Linked DNA regions of Homo sapiens. The protein of the gene in region 1 purifies or fractionates together with the protein of each later gene. This does not show direct contact. Each region holds a gene or a part of one and is shown on either strand. Other genes may lie near its edges.

What was found.
Region 2: the proteins of C1D (region 1) and ZFC3H1 purify together in Homo sapiens (co-immunoprecipitation; 3 studies listed by BioGRID and IntAct, with this or other methods). This does not show direct contact.
Region 3: the proteins of C1D (region 1) and EXOSC5 purify together in Homo sapiens (affinity purification with mass spectrometry; 5 studies listed by BioGRID and IntAct, with this or other methods). This does not show direct contact.
Region 4: the proteins of C1D (region 1) and MPHOSPH6 purify together in Homo sapiens (co-immunoprecipitation; 4 studies listed by BioGRID and IntAct, with this or other methods). This does not show direct contact.

What each region holds. Positions count from the first base shown.
Region 1 is NC_000002.12:68,059,970-68,067,128, forward strand, and holds the start of C1D (nuclear nucleic acid-binding protein C1D), read right to left. Parts: upstream 3,036-7,159; 5' UTR 2,989-3,035; exon of another isoform or gene 2,976-2,988; intron 1-2,975. UniProt on the Homo sapiens protein: Plays a role in the recruitment of the RNA exosome complex to pre-rRNA to mediate the 3'-5' end processing of the 5.8S rRNA; this function may include MPHOSPH6.
Region 2 is NC_000012.12:71,609,071-71,611,855, reverse strand, and holds the end of ZFC3H1 (zinc finger C3H1 domain-containing protein), read left to right. Parts: coding exon 1-70; intron 71-758; coding exon 759-798; intron 799-1,098; coding exon 1,099-1,161; intron 1,162-1,290; coding exon 1,291-1,428; 3' UTR 1,429-2,257; downstream 2,258-2,785. UniProt on the Homo sapiens protein: Subunit of the trimeric poly(A) tail exosome targeting (PAXT) complex, a complex that directs a subset of long and polyadenylated poly(A) RNAs for exosomal degradation. The RNA exosome is fundamental for the degradation of RNA in eukaryotic nuclei.
Region 3 is NC_000019.10:41,394,326-41,402,134, reverse strand, and holds the start of EXOSC5 (exosome complex component RRP46), read left to right. Parts: upstream 1-4,775; 5' UTR 4,776-4,806; coding exon 4,807-4,954; intron 4,955-7,809. Other genes in the region: BCKDHA (2-oxoisovalerate dehydrogenase subunit alpha, mitochondrial isoform 1 precursor), read right to left, coding at 4,200-4,307. UniProt on the Homo sapiens protein: Non-catalytic component of the RNA exosome complex which has 3'->5' exoribonuclease activity and participates in a multitude of cellular RNA processing and degradation events.
Region 4 is NC_000016.10:82,160,211-82,167,245, reverse strand, and holds part of MPHOSPH6 (M-phase phosphoprotein 6), read left to right. Parts: intron 1-2,305; exon of another isoform or gene 2,306-2,594; intron 2,595-3,051; coding exon 3,052-3,164; intron 3,165-7,035. UniProt on the Homo sapiens protein: RNA-binding protein that associates with the RNA exosome complex. Involved in the 3'-processing of the 7S pre-RNA to the mature 5.8S rRNA and play a role in recruiting the RNA exosome complex to pre-rRNA; this function may include C1D.

The DNA.
Region 1 (7,159 bases):
TCCACTTAGATGACTAACAGACATCAAAAACTTATCATGTCCTTAACTGAACTCCGAATCTTCCCACAAACCTGCCCCTCCCACAGTTTTCTACTTCTCAGTTAATGGCAATTCCCTTCTTCTAGTTGCTCAAGCCCCAAACTTTGACAATAACCTTATTCTTACAATTCACTTTCAATCTGTAAGCAATTCTGTTTGCTTTTCCTAGAAAATACATCTAAAATTAAACTGCTTCTCCACCTTCACTTCTTTCCAGCCAGTTAAGATGTTATCATCTCATCTGAACTACAACACCTCCGTGATTAGTCTCCTGGTTTTCACCTACCCCACCCCACAGCAAACTATTCTTAAACACAGCAGCCAGAGAAGATTCTATTAAAACGTGAGTCAGGCTGGGCGCAGTGACTGACGCCTGTAATCCCAGCACTTTAGAAGGCTGAGACAGGCGGATCACCTGAGGTCAGGGGTTCGAGACCAGCCTGGCCAACATGGTGAAACCCTAACTCTACTAAAAACACAAAAAATTAGCTGGGCATGGCGACGGGTGCCTGTAATCCCAGCTACTCCGGAGGCTGAGGCAGGAGAATCGTTGGAACCCAGGAGGCGGAGGTTGCAGTGAGCCGAGATTGTGCCACTGCACTCCAGCCTGAGCAACAGAGTGAGACTCCAAAAGAAAAGAGGGGCGAGATGGGGTGGGGCAGGGCGGGCAAGGGCAGAGCAGGGCAGGAAAGGAAACAAAAGAAAACAAAAGACAATAAAGTAAAATAAAATAAAATAAAACAAACCTAAGTCAGATCATGTCACTCCTCTCCTCCTACCTTTCCATTGGTTATTTACTCACTGGGCTATTGCTCAAGGGAAGATTCATGTCGAGGCACATTTTGAACTCCACATCACTAACATAATGTCTTGTCATGTATTAGTTAGTTAGCAACTATTTGTTTACTAACTAAAACCAATCAAAGTAACCTAAGACGTAATTTTGGAAACTCTTAATATCAGATTACAGTTTGAGCTTACAGATACTAGAAAGTCACCACATGGATCCAAACAAACATACGATAATGTACATTCCAGGGCTCTTCCCATCTCTACACCAAATAATTATACACAGTTATGAACTAAGCCAAAGAACAAATCCAACATGATTGTTTTTTGGAATTTGAGAGCCATTTGCTGTTGTTGCACCAGAATTCTATTACTGTAATGAATTACTGTAATGACTTTTTCGCACTGCATTATCTTAGGAGAAAATAACAATGAAATGTACACACAAGTTCTCAATAAATATTGCTGTCTTGGGCAAACAGTGACTCCATGTTAGTGTTGTCTGTAACTCTCCTTCAGTCCCACAGTACAATTCCTGAGTAAATATAGACTTCTTCCTTTTCTAAAAAATATATTAACATCTAAAAATAAATTTATCCCAAAGTCTAATAGGAGAGTATATAAATTACGAGGATATTGCTCAAGATTGAGATGAACAATTACATTAAATTAAATTCACTTCTATTCAAAGTTTAATTCAAAGCATTTCCAAAATTACAGCAATCAAGCAGCAAAATTACCTTCCAAAACATATGGAAGTTGATTATTACAATTATCTTATTTCTGAAATAAGAGTATATAGTGTTGTTGCACAGATTAAATAAACTAGATAAAAGCCATTAGAACGGGGCCTGGCTCAGTTAGCACTCAATACATTAGATAGTATTTTACTAAAAGTGAAAATTACCAAATACTCTAATCCAATGTGAACTATTTAGAGCCATGCTTGAAGGGTCAACTTTGGAAACAGTAGCTGAGATAATACATATGAAGAGCCATTTGAAAAGGTAAAAGCAGTTAAGAAAAAAATTACATTACTTTTGAACTGTGATACATACAACACAGCTAACTGAAGGCAGCTGTAGTATCTTTTGACTGAGAATTTTATTTTGAAAAACCGTTATTCACACTTGTCACTATCTTTCAACAAAACAATGAGTTCTATCATTTCCACCAAACACAAACATTTCTCTGTACTTCAATAGGGCTAATCTGTTGTTTTTGAATCAAAAATACAGAGTTAAATAACTAAAAGTATAACTGGATTGTTTGTAACACAAAGGATAAGTGCCTGAAGGGATGGATACCCCATTTTCCATGTGATTCTTACATATTGCATGCCTGTATCAAAACATCTCGTGTACCCCATAAATATATACACCTATGTACCCACAAAATTTTTAAATTTAATTTTTTAAAAAATCACGGTTAAGTCTTGGTTCAGTCCACCATCAGACAGTCCTAATAGGTTAATAAGTGGATAGCAAACATCTCATTGCGACAAATACATCTTTATCAAGCCAAAACTGAACTGTAGTCAGCAAACATTGAGGACATTAAAGCTATTTTGAAACAAGTTTGAGTTACACTGAACTTATCCGGGTCATCAAGAAAAACTGCTCTCTTGGATTACCCACTACAGATTTCAGCTAAAGGTCGAAATTAGCCCACTATCTCAGATGAGCTAATACTGCAGCAGCAGGCAGTCTGTGAATGTGAATGATAAACGGAGCTAACACAGTAAAGTTACTCCCCTAGACGTTCCACTTTAGCCTCTCTCCCTAAGCAAGATTGAAAACAGCTGAAAATTGTGAAGACTTCAATGTTTTTTGATTTTTGTTTTTAATTTCTTCGTCTTCCAAGATTTGAGAAGGGGGTGGTTAACAAACGAAGAAAAAGAGAGAGACCGGAGCAAAAGAGAGAAATGAGGGGCCGGGGTAAGCCAAAGCCTGCAAGCAGCCCCAAAACAAGCGGAAGTGGGGGACCTGCCAACAATGCTGCCCCAACGAAGAGCTGTGAGAGACTGCATTCCTGGAAGGCTACGCAGCCAAACTCCGATTTTCTCAGTCTGCCCAGAGGATGACAGGGGAATCCCAGGAGAGGAAAAGCGGAGTTAAACAGGAGCAGGAGAAAAACTGAAACTACACCTTAGAAAAATACCTCACGGCCTTCGACTCCAGTCTCCCGGAAAGCGGTCGGGCAACGATGACGACAATGACGCGCCGGCTCTGCCCCCGCCACGAGCGGCGCTTCCCGATGATCTCACGCTGCTCGCCACGCCCCCTGCTCCTTAACTCTTCTCCAAAGGCAAATCTCATTTTGAGTAGCTCAGACCCATGTTGTGGGAGACGATTGCGGCGGCACTCGGAACTTTTGTCTACCTTTGTACCCGGCTAACACTCACCCCAAATACAGGTTGAGTGTATTTAACCAGGAAAAAAATCTTAGTTATCGAAACTTTGTTCGGGTTTTTACTTTCCCAGAAGCTTTTTTCAGGGCCCTCATTCTTTCTACCCTTTTATTGTCTGCCTCTAGATGAGCCTCTTAGAGCAGCTTCCCAGATTATCCGTGGGGAAGAACAGGTTCTTTATTAGATTATCCGTGGGGAAGAATGGGTTCTTTATTTTTCCAATCTGTCAGTAAAAGGTACTTCTATAAAATACAGTAAAAATGAATTAGTAGAAAAATGGGGAAAATATGTGCAAAATACAAGCCCAAATTTTTTATTAGTTTCAAATAAATGTAAAATTGCATTTCAATGTATGCAATCAGAACAAACATAATAGAAAATAAAGGCATTAACAGAAACTGTACATACTGTTCATTGAAAGTGTAGTATAAGCGATTGAGCATTGTCTTAACATTTGTAACTTGTCATTCCACGGCTGTAATTTGATAAAAAGTTATGCATGAAACAGTTGTCCGTATATTAAATGCATGTAAAAGCATTTTGAACAAGCACCATGTATGTAATATTTAAAGTTTTGGGGGAGGTTCCAAAGTGGCCGAATAGGAACAGCTCCAGTCTACAGCTCCCAGCATGAGCAACGCAGAAGATGGGTGATTTCTGCATTTCCAACTGAGGTACCGGGTTCATCTCACTGGGGCTTCTCAGACACTGGGTGCAGCCCACAGAGCAGGGCGAGGCATGACCTCACCCGGGAAGCACAAGGGATCAGGGAATTCCCTTTCTTAGCAAAGGGAAGCCATGATAGACGGTACCTGGAAAATTGGGACACTCCCATCCTAATACTGTGCTTTTCCAACGGTCTTAGCAAACGGCACACCAGAAGATTATATCCCGTGACTGGCTCAGAGGGTCCCACGCCCACGGAGCCTGGCTCACTGCTACCACAGCAGTCTGAGATCAAACTGCAAGGCAGCAGCGAGGCTGGGGGAGGGGCGTCTGCCATTGCTGAGGCTTAAGTAGATAAACAAAGTGGCCAGGAAGCTTGAACTGGGTGGAGCCCATCGCAGCTCAAGGAGGCCTGCCTGCCTCTGTAGACCCCACCTCTGGGGGCAAGGCATAGCTGAACAAAAGGCAGCAGAAAGTTCTGCAGACTTAAATGTCCGTCTGACAGCTTTGAAGAGAGTAGTGCTTCTCCCAGCACGGAGTTTGAGATCTGAGAACGGACAGACTGTCTCCTCAAGTGGGTCCCTGACCCCCGAGTAGCCTAACTGGGAGACACCTCCCAGCAGGGGCCAACTGACACCTCATACAGCTGGGTGCCCCTCTGAGATGAAGCTTCCAGAGGAAGGATCAGGCAGCAATATTTGCCATTCTGCAATATTTGCTGTTCTGCAGCCTCCGATGGTGACACCCAGGCAAACAGGGTCTAGAGTGGACCTTCAGCAAACTCCAACAGACCTGCAGCTGAGGGTCCTGACTGTTAGAAGGAAAACTAACAAAAAGAAAAGACATCCACACCAAAAACCCATCTGTACGTCACCATCATCAAAGACCAAAGGTAGATAAAACCACAAAGATGGGGATAAATCAGAGCAGAAAAGCCGAAAATTCTAAAAATCAGAGCGCCTCTTCTCCTCCAAAGGAATGCAGCTCCTCACCAGCAATGGAACAAACCTGGACAGAGAATGACTTTGACAAATTGAGAGAAGAAAGCTTCAGACGACTGGTAATAACAAACTTCTCCGAGCTAAAGGAGGATGTTTGAACCCATTGCAAAGAAGCTAAAAACCTTGAAAAAAGATTAGACGAATGGCTAACTAGAATAAACAGTGTAGAGAAGTCCTTAAATGACTGATGGAACTGAAAATCGTGGCACGAGAAGAACGTGACGCATGCACAAGCTTCAGTAGCCGATTTGATCAAGTGGAAGAAAGAGTATCAGTGATTGAAGATCAAATGAATGAAATGAAGCAAGAAGAGAAGTTTAGAGAAAAAAGAGTAAAAAGAAATGAACAAAGCCTCCAAGAAATATGAGACTTTGTGAAAAGACCAAATCTGCATCTGAATTGTGTACCTGAAAGTGACTGGGAGAATGGAACCAAGTTGGAAAACACTCTTCAGGATATCATCCAGGAGAACTTCCCCAACCTAGTGAAGCTGGCCAACATGCAAATTCAGGAAATACAGAGAACACCACAAAGATACTCGTCGAGAAGAGCAACTCCAAGACACATAATTGTCAGATTCACCAAAGTTGAAATGAAGGAAAAAATGTTAAGGGCAGCCAGAAAGGTCAGGTTACCCACAAAGGGAAGCCCATCATAGTAACAGCTGATCTCTCGGCAGAAACTCTACAAGCCAGAAGAGAGTGGGGGCCAATATTCAACATTCTTAAAGAAAAGAATTTTCAACCCAGAATATCATATCCAGCCAAACTAAGCTTCATAAGTGAAGGAGAAATAAAATCCTTTACAGACAAATATACTGAGAGATTTTGTCACCACCAGGCCTGCCTTACAAGAACTCCTGAAGGAAGCACTAAAGATGGAAAGGAACAACTGGTACCAGCCACTGCAAAAACATGCCAATTGTAAAGGCCATCAATGCTAGGAAGAAACTGCATCAACTAATGAGCGAAATAACCAGCTAACATCATAATGACAGGATCAAATTCACACATAACAATATTAACCTGAAATGTAAATGGGCTAAATGCTCCAATTAAAAGACATAGACTGGCAGATTGGATAAAGAGTCAAGACCCATCAGTGTGCTGTATTCAGGAGACCCAACTCACATTCAGAGACACACATAGGCTAAAATAAAGGGCTGGAGGACGATCTACCAAGCAAATGGAAAACAAAAAAAAGCAGGAGTTGCAATCCTAATCTCTGATAAACCAGACTTTAAACCAACAAAGATCAAAAGAGACAAAGAAGGCCATTACATAATGGTAAATGGATCAATTCAATAGGAAGAGCTAACTATACTACCTATACATGCACCCAATACAGGAGCACCCAGATTCATAAAGCAAGCCCTTAGAGACCTATAAAGAGACTTAGACTCCCACACAATAATAATGGGAGACTTTAACACCCCACTGTCAATATTAGACAGATCAACGAGACAGAAAGTTAACAAGGATATCCAGGAATTGAACTCAGCTCTGCACCAAGCAGACCTAGTAGACATCTACAGAAATCTCCACCCCAAATTAACAGAATATACATTCTTCTCAGCACCACATCACACTTATTCCAAAATTGACCACATATTTAGAAGTAAAGTACTCCTCAGCAAATGTAAAAGAACAGAAATTATAACAAACTGTCTCTCAGGCCACAGTGCAATCAAACTAGAACTCAGGATTAAGAGACTCACTCAAAACCGCTTAACTACATGGAAACAGAACAACCTGCTCCTGAATGACTACTGGGTACATAACAAAATGAAGGCAGAAATAAAGATGTTGTTTGAAACCAATGAGAACAAAGACACAACATACCAGAATCTCTGGGACACATTTAAAGCAGTGTGTAGAGGGAAATTTATAGCACTAAATGCCCACAAGAGAAAGCAGGAAAGATCTAAAATTGACACCCTAACATCACAATTAAAAGAACTAGAGAAGCAAGAGCAAACACATTCAAAAGCTAGCAGAAGGCAAGAAATAACTAAGATCAGAGCAGAACTGAAGGAGATAGAGAAACAAAAAGCCCTTCAAAAAATCAATGAATCCAGGAGCTGGTTTTTGAAAAGATCAACCAAATTGATAGGCCACTAGCAAGACTAATAAAGAAGAGAGAATAATCAAATAGACACAGTAAAAAATGATAAAGGGGATATCACCACCGATCCCACAGAAATACAAACTACCATCAGAGAATACTATAAACACCTCTACACAAATAAACTAGA
Region 2 (2,785 bases), on another chromosome or scaffold:
TTCAGATTCTGAAACTTCAAGCCAAGATGTTTACATATAATATCCCAACATGCCTGGCCACCTGGAAAATGTAATGCAACAATCATGTACATGTTTTTATAGCTATTGCTTTTATTTATAAGGTTTGCTCCAGACAGGTAAATCTGAAATGACATCTATATATATATATATATATATATTTTTTTTTTTTTTTTTCCTGGACAGATTGCTATTCTTAATTTAGATTTGTTTTTAGCATTTACTGAGGTTTAATGAGAGTGAGTACTCATTGAATAGCCTCTAAAAGCAAAAAGCGTAGACTTTTAATTTTCTTTGAAGGACAACATTTAGGTGACAGTACTGTTATCAAACAAATCTGCTACAGACATTTTAAGACCACCTCTTGAAATGGTGGTGTGTCACCTGTTGTAGTCTGATTTCTTCTTTCTTTTAAAGGTGTTAGTGCTAGGTATTTTTGACTAGTAATTATGAGGTGTTTTTTTTTTGTTGTTGTTGTTGTTTTTTTTTTCTCCTGTGAACGTTATTTATGTTCAAAACACTGGTCTGCTTTTTTCTTGTAAAGTTGATAAAAATTGTTGAATTTTTCTTTTCACTATAGGTTTTCCTCCTTGGAAGTTTAGCCTGTTAACTTTCAGGAAGTTTTGTACTCAGATTCCCACAGTCAGTATTCTGCCAGTGGTGGTGTTTCATTTTGTTCAAAGATATATAAATTTTTCTTTTCCTTTTTCTATATTTCTTTTTTTTTTTTTTTCTCTTAGAGCCATTGCTGCTGAGATTGTTCTAAAGGGACAAAGAGAGGTAAGCCATGGTTGAATCTCAGATGGGTCACTTTTAAAAAGTTTTTCTGTCTCTTTTGTTGACTTCTCAATTTAAAAGAATTAAAGCACAGAAGTTAACATTTCATGCACACTAAGAACCAAGTGGGGAAACAAAAGTAGTTAACATTTTAAGAGTACCAAATATTCGGAAACTCCAAAACTCAGCATAACCATTTTGTCTCAGATGTTATTGTGAATTACCATTCTTTAAACAGATGGAATTATGAAGGTGTTTTTCATTATATTTTCTGATGGAATTGTGTGTATATCTATCTTACAGGTCCACCGTTTATATCAGAGAGCCTTACAGAAGTTACCTCTTTGTGCATCACTGTGGAAAGATGTAATGCTTTTTATCTTTTATTTTATCTCGATGTTTTCCTGTAAATTTTCTGCATGTGCCATATCCATTGATGTGGTAATGCTCAAACTCTAGCTAAGTCTTACTTCTATGCTTCCCTGTCTTTTACAGCAACTCTTGTTTGAAGCATCAGAAGGAGGTAAAACTGATAACCTGAGAAAACTAGTTTCCAAGTGCCAAGAGATTGGAGTCAGCCTAAATGAGCTCTTAAATTTAAACAGTAACAAAACAGAAAGCAAGAATCACTGAACACTGGGTGCAGTCAGTTCTAAGTCCTTATAATAATTGCCAAAATTATTTGAATGATTCTTCAAGATTAGGCTGATCCCTGGCTAAGGTCTGTGTAAGGCAGACAAGCGTTATTGATCATATCAAGTTCCCTACAATATCCTGTCCTCAAAACCGGAAGCAATGAACATGATCCTCTTCGGTTGGATAAATGAACTTCCTGTTTGGCCTGCTTCTAGGCCCTGCCAGATTCTCATAACATCATATACGTAAGTATAGTTCCTCAAAGTGACTGACATTTATTTTAATTTTGCTTTGTTTTTTTTTATTTTCTCCCCCATTCCTTTATTTTGTGTTATTCCTGACTCACTTGACACTCTCTGATGCCTGAGAGATTCCTGTTTGGGATTTAATATCCAGGGCTGTGTTTACAGTAAAAAAAGCAGGCAGTCCCTTTTAGTTTTTCCTTTTTAAATTTTTTTGAGATTCTTCATTTCAGGATTTAAAACTATAGCAGTCCATCTTAAGGAAAGTGTAACTGCCATGGCCACAAGTCTGCTAGTTGCACTTGAATGCTCTATCAGGGTTGTTTATTACCCTTTCTACGTTCTGGACTCCTTGCCGAGACTGTTTAACTTGAAGATTAAAGAAACTATTGCAAATGCCAGTGCATCAGAACCTAAGAGTGGTCAAATATTATGTGCAATTTTTTTGTAAAGAAATTTTAATTTATAATAAAGTTTAACAGTTTAAAGAACAGTTAATATTTGAACTGCTTTGTATTGAAATACTACTTTGTAGTATTGAAATTGTTTATATACTTTTTTAATATAAGTTAACTTTCTAAAAACTCTTGCTGTCTTTATTCACTTTTCACACTGGTGGGAAAGGGTTGAAGTCGGAGATACGGATATTCACCATAACTTATAGCAATACTTTTTTATCTTGAAACTGCTTTCCCATTAAAAAAAAAAAAATTAATGACTTTTTAATTCATGAGAAGATGGATACTGTTGTGAGGACAGTGAACAGAGAGGTTTGCACTACCATTAAATTCCTTGTTCTCAAATTCTCAGTGTTTAGAAAGTGCCTCCCAACCGTAGTTTGAATGATTTGCCTAGTGACATGCCATCTTATGTTGAATATCAGTGTGATTGAATGCAAAGGAGACCTTGCTTTTTATTTTGTTTTCAGTTTATATTTGGTTGTTTTAACCTTGGCAGGAAAAATGTTAATGACACAACGCACACTGGCACAAATCTGATCTTAGAACTACATGTGCTTGAACTGTTAGAGGCAGAGCAGCAACCCCATGAAATACTAGGAAACTTGTACATGTTTACATTTGTATAATGCTCACTAGAAATAGAACCATATT
Region 3 (7,809 bases), on another chromosome or scaffold:
CTCACGAGATCTGATGGTTTTATAAAGGGGAGTTCCCCTGCAAGCACTCTGTCTGCCTGCCACCATGTAAGATGTGACTTTGCTCCTCATTTGCCTTCCGCCATGTTTGTGAGGCTTCCCCAGCCATGTGGAACTGTGAGTCCATTAAGCCTCTTTTTCTTTATAAATTACCCAGTCTTGGGTGTGTTTTTATTAGCAGCCTGAAAACGGACTAATACATACACTGAGTACCTACCACTTGGAGATACTGCACAGGGCACTGGAACCCCCAGACAGGCTGCCCCTGAAGAGCTGGGTCACAGAAATAGTCACCGATAATTAGCACAGAGCGAGCTCCAGGGGCTTCCTGACTTCCAACAGGGTAGGGACTCTATTCACCCCACTAGCTAGGGTCAGAGAGGTGAAATGACTTAGCCAAGCCCAGGCCTGGGGTAGTGGCTGAGAAACTGACTCACAATTCCTTGACAATCTGAGTTTCCTTCCTCCTCCTTTCCCTGAGCACTAAAACGTCTGCTATGATAACAGAGACAGGAAGGGAGGTGAAAATCAGGCAAACACATCTGCAGGGCAGCAGGGTATTCAATGAAGGAGTGGGCAGAGCAGGGGCAAGAAGTCGGGGACAAGTAAAGCAGCCCCACTCCTCCTTCTAATCCAATCTTCCCCAGTGAACCCAGTAATCCAATCTGTCTACAATATGCAGCCTCTCAACCTTTCCCTGACTATTTCTTCATCTCCACCTGGATAAAACTGCATCATCTTAGCCAGGCATGGTGGCTCACACCTGTAATCCCAGCACTCTGGGAGGCCGAGGTGGGTGGGTCGCCTGAGGTCGGGAGTTCAAGACCAGCCTGATCAACATGGAGAAACCCTGTCTCTACTAAAAATACAAAATTAGCCAGGCATGGTGGTGCATGCCTGTAATCCCAGCTACTCGGGAGGCTGAGGCAGGAGAATCGCTTGAACCCAGGAAGAGGAGGTTGTGGTGAGCCAAGATCATGCCATTGCACTCCAGCCTAGGCAATGAGAGCAAAACTCCACCTCGAAAAAACAAAAAACAAAACAAAACAAAAACCCTGCACCATCTAATGTGGCAGCCACCAACCACTTGTGGCTATCTTATTTTGAGACAGAGGGCTGCTCTGTCACCTAGGCTGGGGTATAGTGGTGCGATCTCGGCTCACTGCAATCTCCGCCTCCCAGGTTCAAGCGATTCTTCTGCCTCAGCCTCCCAAGTAGCTGGGACTACAGGCACACGCCATTACGCCCAGCTAATTTTTTTGTATTTTTAGTAGAGATGGGGTTTCACCATGTTGGCCAGGCTGGTCTTGAACTCCTGGCCTCAGGCAACCCGCCCACCTTGGCCTCTCAAAATGCTGGGATTACAGGCATGAGCCACCGCACCCAGCCCACTTGTGGCTACTTAAACTTAAACTCATGATAATTTAATAATATGGCCAGGCAAGGTGGCTCACGCTTGTCATCCTGCACTTTGGGAGGCTGAGGCAGGAAGATCGCTTGAGTCCAGGAGTTCAAGACCAGCCTGGAAAACATGGCAAAACCCCATCTCTACAAAGATTTAAAAATTAGCCAGGCGCAGCCAGGCACAGTGGCTTATGCCTGTAATCCCAGCACTTTGGGAGGCCGAGGCGGGCAGATCACCTTAGATCAGGAGTTCAAGACCAGCCTGGTCAACATGGTGAAACCCCATCTCTACTAAAAATACAAAAATTAACTGGGTATGGTGGCGCACGCCAGTAGTCCCAGCTATTTGGGAGGCTGAGGCAGGAGAATCACTTGAACCTGGGAAGTGGAGGTTGCAGTGAGCCGAGATCGTGCCACTGCACTCCAGCTTGGGTGACAGAGCAAGACTCCGTCTCAAAAAAAAAAAAAAAAATTAAAAATTAGCCAGGCGTAGTAGCACGTGCCTGTGGTCCCAGCTACTTAGGAGGTGGAGGTGGGGGGATTGCTTGAGCCCAGGAGGTTGAGGCTGCAGTGAGCCATGATCACACCACTGCACTCACTCCAGCCTGGGTGACAGAGTGAGACCTTGTCTCAAAAAAAGAAAAGGCTAGGCGCAGTGGCTCATGCTTTTGGAGGCCAAGACAGGCGGAACTTGAGGCCAGAAGTTCGAGACCAGCCTGGACAACATGGTGAAACCTCGTCCCTACCAAAAATACAAAAATTAGCCAGGCGTGATAGTGCATGCCTGTAATCCCAGCTACTAGGGAGGCTGAGGCAGGAGAATTGCTTGAACTCGGCAGGCAGAGATTGCAGTAAGTCAAGATCATGCTGCTGCACTCCAGCCTAGGCGAGAGAGTGAAACTCTGTCTCAAAAAAGAAAAAAAAAGAAAAAGGAAAGAGAGGTACAGAAAGAAAGAGAGAGAGAAAAGAGAAGAGAAAAGGAAAGGAAAGGAAAGGGAAAAAGAAAAGAAAAGAAAAAGGAGAGGGGAGGAGAGGAGAGGAGAAGGAGAGGAAAGAAAGAAGAAGAGAGAAAGAACAGGTGGGAGAAATAAAGGGGAAAAAACAATAACTCTTAAGATAATACAAATTTAAATATATATAAATAAAAAGTAGGGACTTCTTCCCTCCCCACTCCCCACCAAAAATGAAGTAGGGGAAGCAAGAGGAAAGGTAATCAAGAGATTGAGACAGGAGAGAAAGATTTAATCAGCCATAAATGACCTTTCCCTAGCCTGCCCCAGTCCTGCCCACCTCCTGCCCCACTTGCCCAGCCAATGGGCCCCTGGGACTGAGATCAGCTGTGGAGGATATGAACTGCTCAAAAAAAAAAAAAAAAAAAAAAGTGAAAAGGTCTCCAGCCCAAAGGCAAGAGACTGCCCTACCCACACCTTGCTCCTGCAGCCCTTCTGTATTTACCTGTTTCAAGTGACTCCGTTCCTAGATACCTACTACGTCCTACTCCTGGCCCATCTTCTTCACCCTCCTCCCGTTTGTTCCCCTACCCAGAGCTTCTTTCTACAGATTCCATCTTCCCCTCCTTATGGATTGGGGATCAGAGGATCAGACTCAACCTCACAATATCTTTTCAGATTTTTTTCCCCAGGGCCTCACCAATCCAGGCCTTCCCAAGGTCACCCCTTTCTTCTCCCCATCTCCAAGGTTAGTTTCTGTCCCTTCCCTCCACCCTCACTATCAACATTCCTATTGCCCTTAGGATGTGCCAGGTCCAGTCCTTAGCATTTTACATATTGATTTTTCACAGCCCTATGAGGTGGCCACTGTTAATATTTTAGAGAGGAAAATTAGCTCCATAGATCCAGAGAAGTGCAGTCCGTTGGCCAAGGCTACACAAGTGGAAAGCGGCAGAGCAAGGACATGCATCCACCCATGTAACCACTACTCTCCTATCTGTCAACTGTAGTTCAAAGCTCTTCTGCAACCCATTGCCTCTCCCCGTCTAAAGATAGGCTTCCACCTAGGTTTTTTGCAGTGTAATCTTGCCCTTAGCAGCATCCACCTGAAGGGATTGTGACCCTTTTGACAAGAAACAAAGCCTTCTCAAGTGTTTCTAAGAAATGTGGGCAAAGTGCCCTGTCTGTACCTCTCTCCCTCCTTTTTTCCCCTCATTAATTCAACAAATATTAATCGTCTCCTCTGTACAGTGTCCAGAACACACGAATTCTCTGTCTTGATATTCGATCAAGAGACACAGGAATCAAACAAATTTTTTACACAATTCATTTTAAAATCAGAATTGTGGCAAAGGAGCAAAGAAATACAAGGCCCTATGCAGCCTGTGACAGGGACCTGTTCTCTTCTTTCTTCTTCTTGAAGAGGGATCTTTGCCCAGAAGAAAGTCCCTCCCTTACAAAGTCAGTTTCATTCTCCAAACCCTGAGGGAGAAGGTCTTGCGGTCTTCCCCTGTTCCTCCAAGGAGCCTCCCCTGAATACCAGTGGCAGCTAATAAGGAACCCCCATCTCTCTCTTCAAGTCGTCTCCCTCAGGGCCCACAAAGAAGTTGCAAACGGGTTTTTTCCTCTCCTAAAGAAGTGGAAGTTCTTTTCGTCTCCTAAGGAAGTGGCAGATCTTCCCTTCGGTGTCTTCTCCAAGGAGTCTCCCACTCTTTTTCCCTTTTGTGACAGCCCTTCCTTCATATCCTTCAGGGACCCCACACTCTGAAGATAGCCTTTACATCCCTAATCCCCTTTGGGAAAACCGCCTGGGGCCCAGGTACTCACAGATCTAGCCAGTCCCCGAGCCCCAGGCTGCCGCAGCAGCAGGAGGGCAGCCTGGCTCAAACCACGGTTTAGCCGCCAGACCCTCGCTGCAGCGATCGCTACCGCCATCTTGGCTAACAACCACTCAGCGGTCCGGCACTCACGTAGGCTAGATTCGGGGCTGCCTCTTTATGTGCCTGACGCAAACTCCAGCACCATCTGACAAGAAAACCATCTTCTTCCCGTTCTGTGGTAGATAGAATGCACAGAGATTTGGAGAAAAAAAAATCTATCTACCCAAAATTTTCTCCAATCGCCTCATTGTAGTTACTCCTGTAACAGGCAAAGAAGAGGGCAACCTGACCAGGGCCTCAGGGATTTAGGGCCCGGGGGCCCAGAGTAAAGCGGATCAATGCCAAGGCCTGCCTTCTGTTCCCAAATGTCCAATGGCGTTGCCAGAGTTAGGAGGTGGGACTGGGCGGAGCCAGATTGTTGGTAAACGCTAAGCCACGTGCGGACGCCCAGGAGGATGGCCCAGCCCGGCGCGTGCGCACTGGTTACGCAGCCTGTTTGCGGCGCGCGCTGCCAGGCGGAAGTGACAACTGCAGCCGCACGTGGGCTCGGCGCGATGGAGGAGGAGACGCATACTGACGCCAAAATCCGTGCTGAAAATGGAACAGGGTCCAGCCCTCGGGGTCCTGGCTGCAGCCTCCGGCACTTTGCCTGCGAACAGAACCTGCTGTCGCGGCCAGATGGCTCTGCTTCCTTCCTGCAAGGTAAGAACTTCACCCAGGTCTTTCTTTTGGAGAGGGACTACCGTGTACTGTGCAACCGAGTGCCCACCTCCTCACGATACCAGCTGGTAAATGTCACTCCTGCGTTGATGCATGATTTCTTGTCCGATTGAATACTACTAAATACGCAGGGATACACACATCTCTCCCTCACGACTAGAAAGGAGAAGATAGTTCCATCTTTGTAACTATCTCTGAGAATGAGAGGAGGGGCAGACTGTCCGCCCAAGAATTGATATTTCAGAATAGGGAAAATCACCTCGCCAGGGTAAATATCCCCCTTAACTCGATTCCTCCTCCACCCTCCCACCCCCACCCCCCACACACACACCCTCTAGGTCCTTGCATCCCGGACTGAAGCAAACCTGTCTATTTGCATACTGTGGACTGTGGCGGATCTTTCACCCACGTAAATACTCCTCAAATTGAAGATAATGTCATTGCGCTGGGTTGAGAAATACATCCCCACCGCTACCTCACTGCATCTCTCCACACAAGTAAATATCCCTAAGATTAGGGCAAGTCAAAAAAAAAAAAAAAAAAAAGATTAGGGCAAGTCTTACCTATAGAGCAAATATCCCCTTTTCCTAGCTAAATAACTCTCAGAAGTAGATTAACTCCAAGAATATTTCTCTTTAACGTTTGAGACGGGAGGCCGGGGGCGGTGGCTCACGCCTGTAATCCCCACACTTTGGGAGGCCAAGACCTGTGGCTCACCTGAGGTCAGGAGTTCGAGACCAGCCTGGCCAACATGGCGAAACCCTGTCTCTACTAAAAATACAAAAACTAGCCAGGCATGGTGGCGGGCGCCTGTAATCCCAGCTACTCGGGAGGCTGAGGCAGGACAATCACTTGAACCTGGGAGGCAGAAGTTGCAGTGGGCCGAGATCGTGCCATTGTACTCCAGCGTGAGCGACAAAGCAAGACTCTGTCTCAAAAAAAAAAAAAATTGAGACAGCGTCTCACGATGTCACCCAGGTTGGTCTTGAACTCCTGGGCTCAAGCAATCCTCCTCCCAAAGTGCTCATACAGGTATGAGCCACCACGCCCAGCCCCAATACATTTTAACAAAATTTGGCTGCTGTGTTGATTGTGGGGAGTATGGGGGAAAACAGGGAGGTGATGGTGGCTCCAGCCAGAGCAGGAGTAGTGGAGGTGATGAGATTCTGGATGTAGTTTGAAAGTAATACGGACAAAACTTACGTATAGTTTGGTTTGAGTGCGAGGAAAAAGATTCAGGCATAACTAAGGTTTCTGCCCAGATCTGTACAAGTCTGGAAATCAGAAGAGAGACCCAAGCTGGACATAGGCAATTTGGAACTCTCTGGCTATATAGATGGTATTTCAGGCTATTGCCTGAACGAAGTGAGTGTAGATGGAAAAGAGAAGAGGTCCCAGGACCAAGCCCTAGGCCTTCCAACTTGAGCAGTCAGAGACATGTGACAAGCTAGCAAAGGAGACTCAGAAGGAACGCCCAGAGAGTTAGGGGGAAACCAGGAGATGGTGGTGACCTGGGGCCAAGAAAAGAGCATGTCTGAGATGTGAGGGCTGACCAGCTGTTTCAGCCTTACTGACAGCCGGGTCATGGGAGGGTTGATCATTTGGAGGTCAGTGGTGACGATGTTGAGCTGCCGCAATGGAGTGGTGGGGTCACAGAAAAGGAAGAAGAGGCAGCTGTTCAGGAGTTCTGCTGTAAGAGGATCAGATAAGTGGGGCAGGAGTTGTAGATTGTTGTGGGGTCAACAGGGGAGAGAATTGCTGGAGCCACGTCTTCAAGAAGGTGAGAGGGGAGAGACTCTTGTGCTCGGGCAAAACACAGGCAGTTCATCTGGAGCCAGAGGCAAGTTCTGTTTTGGTAACTTCTCCAGTCCTCAGGGCAGTTTCTCCTGGAACTAAGCATACCTTCCGTGTAAGGGCAAATTGGGCTTCCCAGGAAATACGGCCTTAACCAAGGACCTTCCCAGGCCCTCCCTCAGGCTTAGCGCTTATGCTGAATTGAGATACCTAAAGTTTCTTCGAACGTAAGAATTAAGAAGAGGCCGGGTGCAGTTGCTCACAGCGGTAATCCCAGCACTTTGGGAGGCCTCTGAGGTCAGGAGTTCTTTTTTTTTTTTTCTTTTTTTTTTTTTGAGATGGAGTCTCGCCCTGTCGCCCAGGCTGGAGTGCAGTGAAGTGATCGTGGCTCACTGCACCCTCCACCTCCCGGGTTCAAGCAATTCTTCTGCCTCAGCCTCCTGAGTAGCTGGGACCACAGGTGCGTGCCACCGCGCCCGGCTAATTTTTGTGGTTTTTAGTAGAGACGGGGTTTCACCATGTTGGCCAGGCTGATCTTGAACTCCTGACCCTGTGATCCACCTGCCTCAGCCTCCCACAGTGCTGGGATTACAGGCGTGAGCCACCTCGCTTGGTTGAGGTCAGGAGTTCTGAGACCAGATTGGCCAACATGGTGAAAACCCATCTCTACTAAAAATACAAAAATTAGTCGGATGTGGTAGCACGCACCTGTAATCTCAGCTACTCTGGAGGTTGAGGTACAAGAATCACTTGAGCCTGGGAGGCGGAGGTTGCAGTGAACTGAGATTGCGCCACTGCACTCCAGCCTCCTGGGTGACAGAGGGAAACTCTGTCCCAAAAAAGAAAATAGAGACAGGAGTCTTCCTATGCTGCTCAGGCTGGTCTCAAACTCCTGGCCTCAAGCAGTCCTCCCACCTGGGCCTCCATAGTGCTGGGATTACAGGTGTGAGCCACCATGCCTGGCCTAAAATGTATTTTTTTTTTTTTATTGAGACTAAGCCTTGCTGTTATTGTCCAGGCTGGAGTGCAATGGTGTGATCTCG
Region 4 (7,035 bases), on another chromosome or scaffold:
AGGTCTTCCAGTATGGAATGGTTGTAGAGGGTGCTTATTTGTGATTTTGGCACTGTTAGACTCTCAGAACAGGGCTTGGCAAACTTTCTGTAAAGGACCATATGATAAATATTTTGGTCTTATGAGCCAGACAGTCTCTGTTACAACTACTCAGCTCTGCCAGTGTTGTTCAAGACCGAATGACCATGGTTGTGTACCAGTAAAACTTTATCGACGACAACAGACATCTAGCCTGAGGACTGTATTATGCTGATGCCTGCTCTGAGTCCTCACTAGTTTTGGAATGTGTTCTGAAATGCTCTAGAGTAGGAGAATCGAACTTGTACCTAAGTCTGGAGGTGCTTGATTCATATTCACAGGGAGTTCTGTCCTTTCTATGTGTACAGAACATATGTATATGGCTGTTGTATACCAAAAGAATAGGTACATGACTAAATGGGAGAAAAAAGGGCAGTTGGGCAGTATTGATGAGTTTTACCACGAGGAATATTAGTGATGAAATGAGGCATCTGCATTTAAAGAAAACCATCCCAGAAAGAGAATCTGGAAAAATAAGATAGGTCTAGGTTCATTTCCATTCAGAGAACTTTCACTGAGTGAGCTCTTTTGTGTACCAGGGGTGCCGCCTAAGTACCAATGATACAAGATGAACAAGAGTCATGGTCTATTCAGAATCGTAGTCCTGGGAGACACCAAAGCAGCACGATGGTGAACAATATTCCAGTGTTGATGAGGCTGTCTTGAGAATGTGCTTCTTTATAGGAGCAGACCTAGGAAGAGCCAAGCCAAATGCCAACCAGGAAGTCTTACCAAAGGACACACACTGTAGGCTTAAAAGAGTAAATATTTTGCCAGGCAGAAAATGGAAACGTGTTAAGTCGCAAAGGCAAAAGGACTGGGAAGTATAGCGTGCACATTCCAGAAACTGCAGTTCTTTCCTGGGATGAGGATGTACACACAGGTAAAATGGATGACGACTGCAAAACACTAGTCTGCAAACTTGTTTTCTTTTACTTTTTACTTAAAATAGTGATAGATTCACAGGAAGTTGCAAAAAGTGTACAGGGATATCCCGTGCGTCCTTCATGCCACCTCCCCTAGCGGCAACATTTTACAACACTAGGATATGATAAAGAGCCAGGACATTGACAGTGAGCTGACGCAGATTTCACCATTTTACACGCACTCATTTTGCGTGGACGGTTGCTGGGTCATATGGTAAGTGTATGTTTAGTTTGCTAAGAAACTGCCATGCTGTTTTCCACAGTGGCTGTACCATTTACTTTCCCACCAGCTATGTTTGAGTGATCAGTTTCTTCACATTCTCTTCAGCACTTGATGTTATCACCATCATGTGTTACTTAACACATGATTTAACAACAGGGATACGTTCTGAAACATGCATTGTTAGGTGATTTCATCATTGTGAGAGCATCATAGGGTTCATCTACGCAAACCTGGATGGTATAGCCTACCACACACTTAGGCTATATGGTACAGCCTGTTGTTCGTAGGCTGCAAACCTATACAGCATGCTACTGTACTGAATACTGTAGGCAGTTGTAACACAGTGGTGTCTGTGTATCTAAACATATCTAGATATAGAAAAGGTACAATAAAAATGCAGCATTGTAATCTTATGGGACCACTGTCATATATGGGTTCCATCGTCGACCAAACATCATTTTGCAGTGCATGACTATTTTATTCGTGAACGTTAAGGTTTTTTCATTTAACTTAGTAGTCATTGTTAAAGTGCTTATGCCTAAAAAGGCTTATGTTTGGAAAAGGTGGAATAGAAGGAGGAGAAATATGGGACCTGGGCCGGGCGCAGCGGCTCACACCTGTAATCCCAGCACTTTGGGAGGCCGAGGCGGGTGGATCACAAAGTCAGGAGTTTGAGACCAGCCTGGCCAAAGTGGTGAACCCCCGTCTCTACTAAAAACAGAAAAATTAGCTGGGTGTGGTGGCAGGCGCGTAATCTCAGCTACTCGAGAAGCTGAGGCAGGAGAACCTCTTGAACCTAGGAGGCAGAGGTTGCAGTGAGCTGAGATCGTGCCACTACACTCCAGCCTGGGCGACAGAGTGAGACTCTGTCTCAAAAAAAAAAAATAAAAAAAAAAATAAAAAAGAAATATCGGACCTGAATAAGGGAAAGAAATGGGGGATACATAGAAACCAGTGGAAGCTGAAACCTAACTGCTAGGAGGCTTCTGGGTATTTTCTGATTTTATTTTCTCCAGTGTTGATATTTTATCTTGTTGCTGTGGTTAGCCTCTTAAGTTTGTTCACTTGTTCCCTGAAGAAATACAGGTATTCATGCTAGTGAGAGACTGGCAGCAGGACTGTTATTTACTGCCATATTTTGAGTCAACTTTCTGCAGATTTGATAAGAGCAGCTCAAGAGTTTAGCAGCATTTCAGAGGAAAAATAAAAACGAAGAGCAGACTTATAGATGTACCTTTGCTTCTGCCTACATTTATCGGGCTCTTACTGTGCTTCAGTCATCATATTGGGACAGATGAAGGAGATGACCCAGACACCCAGTCCTTAAGGTCTCCAGAAAAGATAGATGCTCAGAAAGTTCAGATGTGGTGAGTCTATTGGAGGGAGCCATGGAAGCATTTAGGACAGAGGCACTGATTTTACTGGCACTCATAGAAGTCTAGTAGCTTTACCTATGTCAGACGGGCGAGGAGTTGGCCAGGTGGAAGAGGATAAGAAGGGCATTTCAACCCCAGATCAGCAGGTGCCAAAGCCAGTGGGCTCTGTGGGTGAGCACAAGACCTTCGAATGTGGTGTCTTAGCCCTTAAGTTTTCCGAAGGAAATATACATTGTGCATTTTCTCATGCCCTGACACAAGCCCTCATCGTCTAGTGTAAAGTTGGAAGGGTAGAGCTAAACCGTTTGATCACTTGCCCCAACCCTCAATCTTGAGATGGGTTCCATAGATAAATGAAGGAGAACAAGTAGAAGAAGAAAATTATTTGGGGTTTCCTCAGTTCTAAAATGGGAAAAGTTTCTGACATTGATTTTGTTTGTTTTCACAGTTTATGCAAAGGGGACTGGACTCAGAAACCAAGAAACAACTAGAAGAAGAAGAAAAGAAAATCATTAGTGAAGAGCACTGGTACTTGGATTTGCCAGAGCTTAAAGAGAAAGAGTAGGTTTATTAAAATTGATACTGATGATGCTTGTGGCATTCAGAAGGAAACTCCTGGTAAATTTAACTCATCATTCCGGTGACATAAAGCCCATGAAATTGTTTCTGTTCAGTTTATTGATTTAGTAGCACAACTAAAAAATATTAAACCTATAGAAGTTGTACATGGATTTATACATTTTTACTACTCCCCCTCCCAGCCACTATTTTGTCCTTTTTTACATTGAATGAAGGAACCTAGCCCACATATCTCTGATAGTAACAGCAGACCTTTGGGGAAGCTGTAATGTTCTCTCTATCACCTTAAGTTCTAAAGATTAGGGGTGTACTTCAGGTCTCTCCAGTTTTGTTTCGGTTACAGAGTTCATTAGGTTGAGCATTTTAAGGCAGGTCAGAAGTTTTTGTTTCTTCTTTTAAATTGTTACTACTTGTAATACCATCCATTTTAGCTAACATTTACTGAATCTATAGTGTGTACCAGGAACTGGGCTAAACACTTTACATCTGTAGTTATTGAATCTTCGTAGCAAACTTAGGAACTGCCTCCTATGATTCTGTCACTTTGTAGTTGAGGAACTGAGCTTAAGGGAGGGTAACTTGCCCAGCTTCACCCAGCTAGTCAGTGCTGAAGGCTGGGGTAGACAGTTTCTGGCCCACCCCTAAGCTTGGCTGGTGCCTGATCAACAATTTTGAATGAAGGAGTGTTGGATTTATTTCATCCATTAATTTAGCTGAATCCTTCTGGAAGCTATTTTTCATTTTTCCCTGATACTTTCCTCACCTTAGTAAGCTCTGTTGTATGGTAGTTTTACTTAAACTTTGGTCAAATGACTGAAGATGCTGCTTACTGTCTTGAGGCACATTTATGTGTTTCCATTCTGTACCTGATGTTTGGGCTTTGATTTGGAATGTTATATTCCCCTGTTCATTTGGCTGACCTCTGGACATTGTTTGAAGGTTAGATACCCTTCTCTAAAGATAGAAAGTATGTCCCACCAGGAGGGATCGGGAGAAGGTACTTTTTTTCTCTGCTTCTCAGAGGAAGCAAGATGTTGGTGAGGAGGGAGAAGATAGTGCCAGGGGCAGGGTCACAGGGAGGAAGGGACCTTTGCTGCTGGAGCTATAATTTACTTTTATGCCTTAAGTAAACTTGCCAAAGTGTTCCTTCCAGTTGTTTATTAAAGAGCAGGACTGTTTCTATCTTGTTTCCAGTATTTTTCCCCTAATACAGCATATTATTCCCAGAAAATGACCTTTACATTTCTTTCTGGGAAGGTAAATAATGCCTTTTTGCCATTACTCAGCATCCTGTTTATGTATAGGTGTGTATATCAGCTCAGGATGTTGGCAGGAGAAGATGACACTCTCAGACTGAGGAGAGACTATCAAGGTGTGGGTGGGGCATAGGGGGGCCCCTCGGGGCAGTGCAGCACCTCCTAGCATGTGTAGTGGGAGTGATTACCACCTGAGCTTGCAGAGTCAACGGGTGGGTGGGGAATAGCTGCTACCGAATCTGCAGATAAGTTGTGTAGAGAGAGCACCTTACAGGAGCTGCTACCTCCATTCACGGGTACGGCCAGCCCAAGGTCATCCTAGCAAGGGAGCCAGGTACCTGGCAGCAAAGGAGCCCTTCCGTGCATTACGTTCAAGTCAGCCTCCCAGGCCAGAGAAACAGGTGAAGACGGGAAGTAGGTCTGGAGGGGTGAATGGATGACATGTCCTTGGTATACGTGTTGTATTGAGTTGTTGTTTTTAACACTCTAAATAGGGAGATCATGGAATGGATTGGTTGATTAAGCACATGGGCTCTGAAGTCAGGCAGACCTGGGTTTGATGCCCAGCTCCGCCAGTTGTTTACTTGTCACCTTGGGTGAGTTACTTAACCTGTTTTGTGTCATTTGTGTATTGGGTATGATGATAGTACCTGTCCAGTACATTCCGAGAAGTAGATGAGGTAATATATGTAAAACAGTCACCATAACACCAGGCATAAAGCACAGTGATTGTCACCATTGTGTGTATTTCCTTATATCTGAATATATGAAGTACACCCATTCCTTTCTACTCACTTATGTTTGTGTATCCTTTTTTGCTAGTGTTGTCTTAACTATTCTGTGAATTTGGAGATTGCATGTGTCTGTGCTCTGAAAGTCTCGACTTTCCCATTTTTAATGTCAGCCGTATCAGTCTGTAATTCAGTGAAGATAATTAGGGCTATTCAGTGTTAACACTGCCTCACAGGGGACACTTTTAGCCAGTGGCTAGACCATGTAGGGGAATGATGATCTAGCTGCTGTGCCTCAACTTGGAACAACTGAAGGGCATTCCTGACTCCAGAGCTCTCATATGTGGCTGAGGCCTTAGTGTAGCCACATTGCCCATTATCTTCTCCCTCTGCCCAATCCTTCTTTCTCTGTTTTCCTAGAAGGGCATCTGCTGAACAACACTGCCTGCTAAGTTTTCTGCATATATGTCTGTCTCAGAGTCTGTTTCCAGGGAACCCGATATAGTGTGAATTCCTAGGAGTGAAATTTACCAGATGAAAGATTTTGCTATCTATTGCCTTATTGTTTTTTTCCCCAAGGATATGGTCCAGAAAGAGTGTGCAAGTATAGGCAGTTTAATTCCTCCTTTGCCGTAGCAAGTTGTTTAAGAAGTATTTTTGGCTATTGTACATCTTATACTTGTGTTTTGTGGTCTGTTTGGAGTCAGAAGCTATAGGGACCTGAAACTAACAAGTTAGCCTGCCACACTTTCACTGATGCTGGTGGAAGATAGGAACCTTCTGGGTCTGAGATGTAGGGGAGGGACAATAGCCTTTCCTTCCACCCATTTGAAGTTCATTAGTTGGGGTCCCTGTAACAAAAGACAGATTAACAAAGAGAAAGGTATACACTTTTATTTCACAAAAGTTTTAGGTGACACAGGAGCCTTCATAAGAAAATGAATACCGAAGAACTGGTTGAACCTGAGTGTTTTTATGTTAGCTTTGATGAAGAGTGGAAAGTTGTGAAGAAATATGATGGGAGCAAGGGGTATGAACGAAGAGTAATAAGCCAGGAGAAACTTAGCAAGTCTTTTGTTCAGATTCCTCTCTCTGTCCCTTCTTCTGAGATAAGGATGTTGCTTTCCTCTGAGTGTAGGGAGGGCACCTCTTATGTGAGATGCTTTTATGACCTGCTTCAGGGGACAGTCAGAAAATCCTACCTGCACGTCATTTTTCAGATTCCTCCAGTGTAAAATTTTCAGTATGCCAAGATGCCATATTTTGGGAGTAGTGTCTCCTGAACACCATCAGAAACAAAGGACTTACTGTACAGCAAGCAGCACAAGCATCAAGTTTGCGTCATTTCTCTTTTGTCCCCAACTCCTATGAGGGATGGCGTGAAGTGGCCCAGGTGGATGCTGTGCACCCAGTGGATTTGCATCATAGCTGAGATCTCCTGAGCTTAGAAAACTGGAACCTTGGATAACGGACCACAAGCAGACTTGCCTTCGGCCCCAAGAGAGGCATCTGTATTATGCTGGACAGTAAGCAAATCTGCCCTTCGCTTTAGAGGAAGACTGTTTTTCAAGGCTGCTCGCTATGCAGATATCCTTGCAAAGATAGTCCAGAGCAACCGGGCAGTTAGTGCCTCACTCAAAAAATGTGCAGGAATGTGAGACCCACTGAGAAGGGTTTTCTAACTGGAGTTTTGCCATGGTATTTGTGGCTTTAGGCAAGTCCAGCTTTTTCTGAGCAGTAGTTTCTCATCTGCGAAATTTATGAAATAATTTTGTGGGTGTGTTTTAGCCTGAAAATTATCCTCATTAATGAAAATTGGATAATTAAAATACAAAAAGAGGTAAGTTTTGAAATATTTCACTTGCT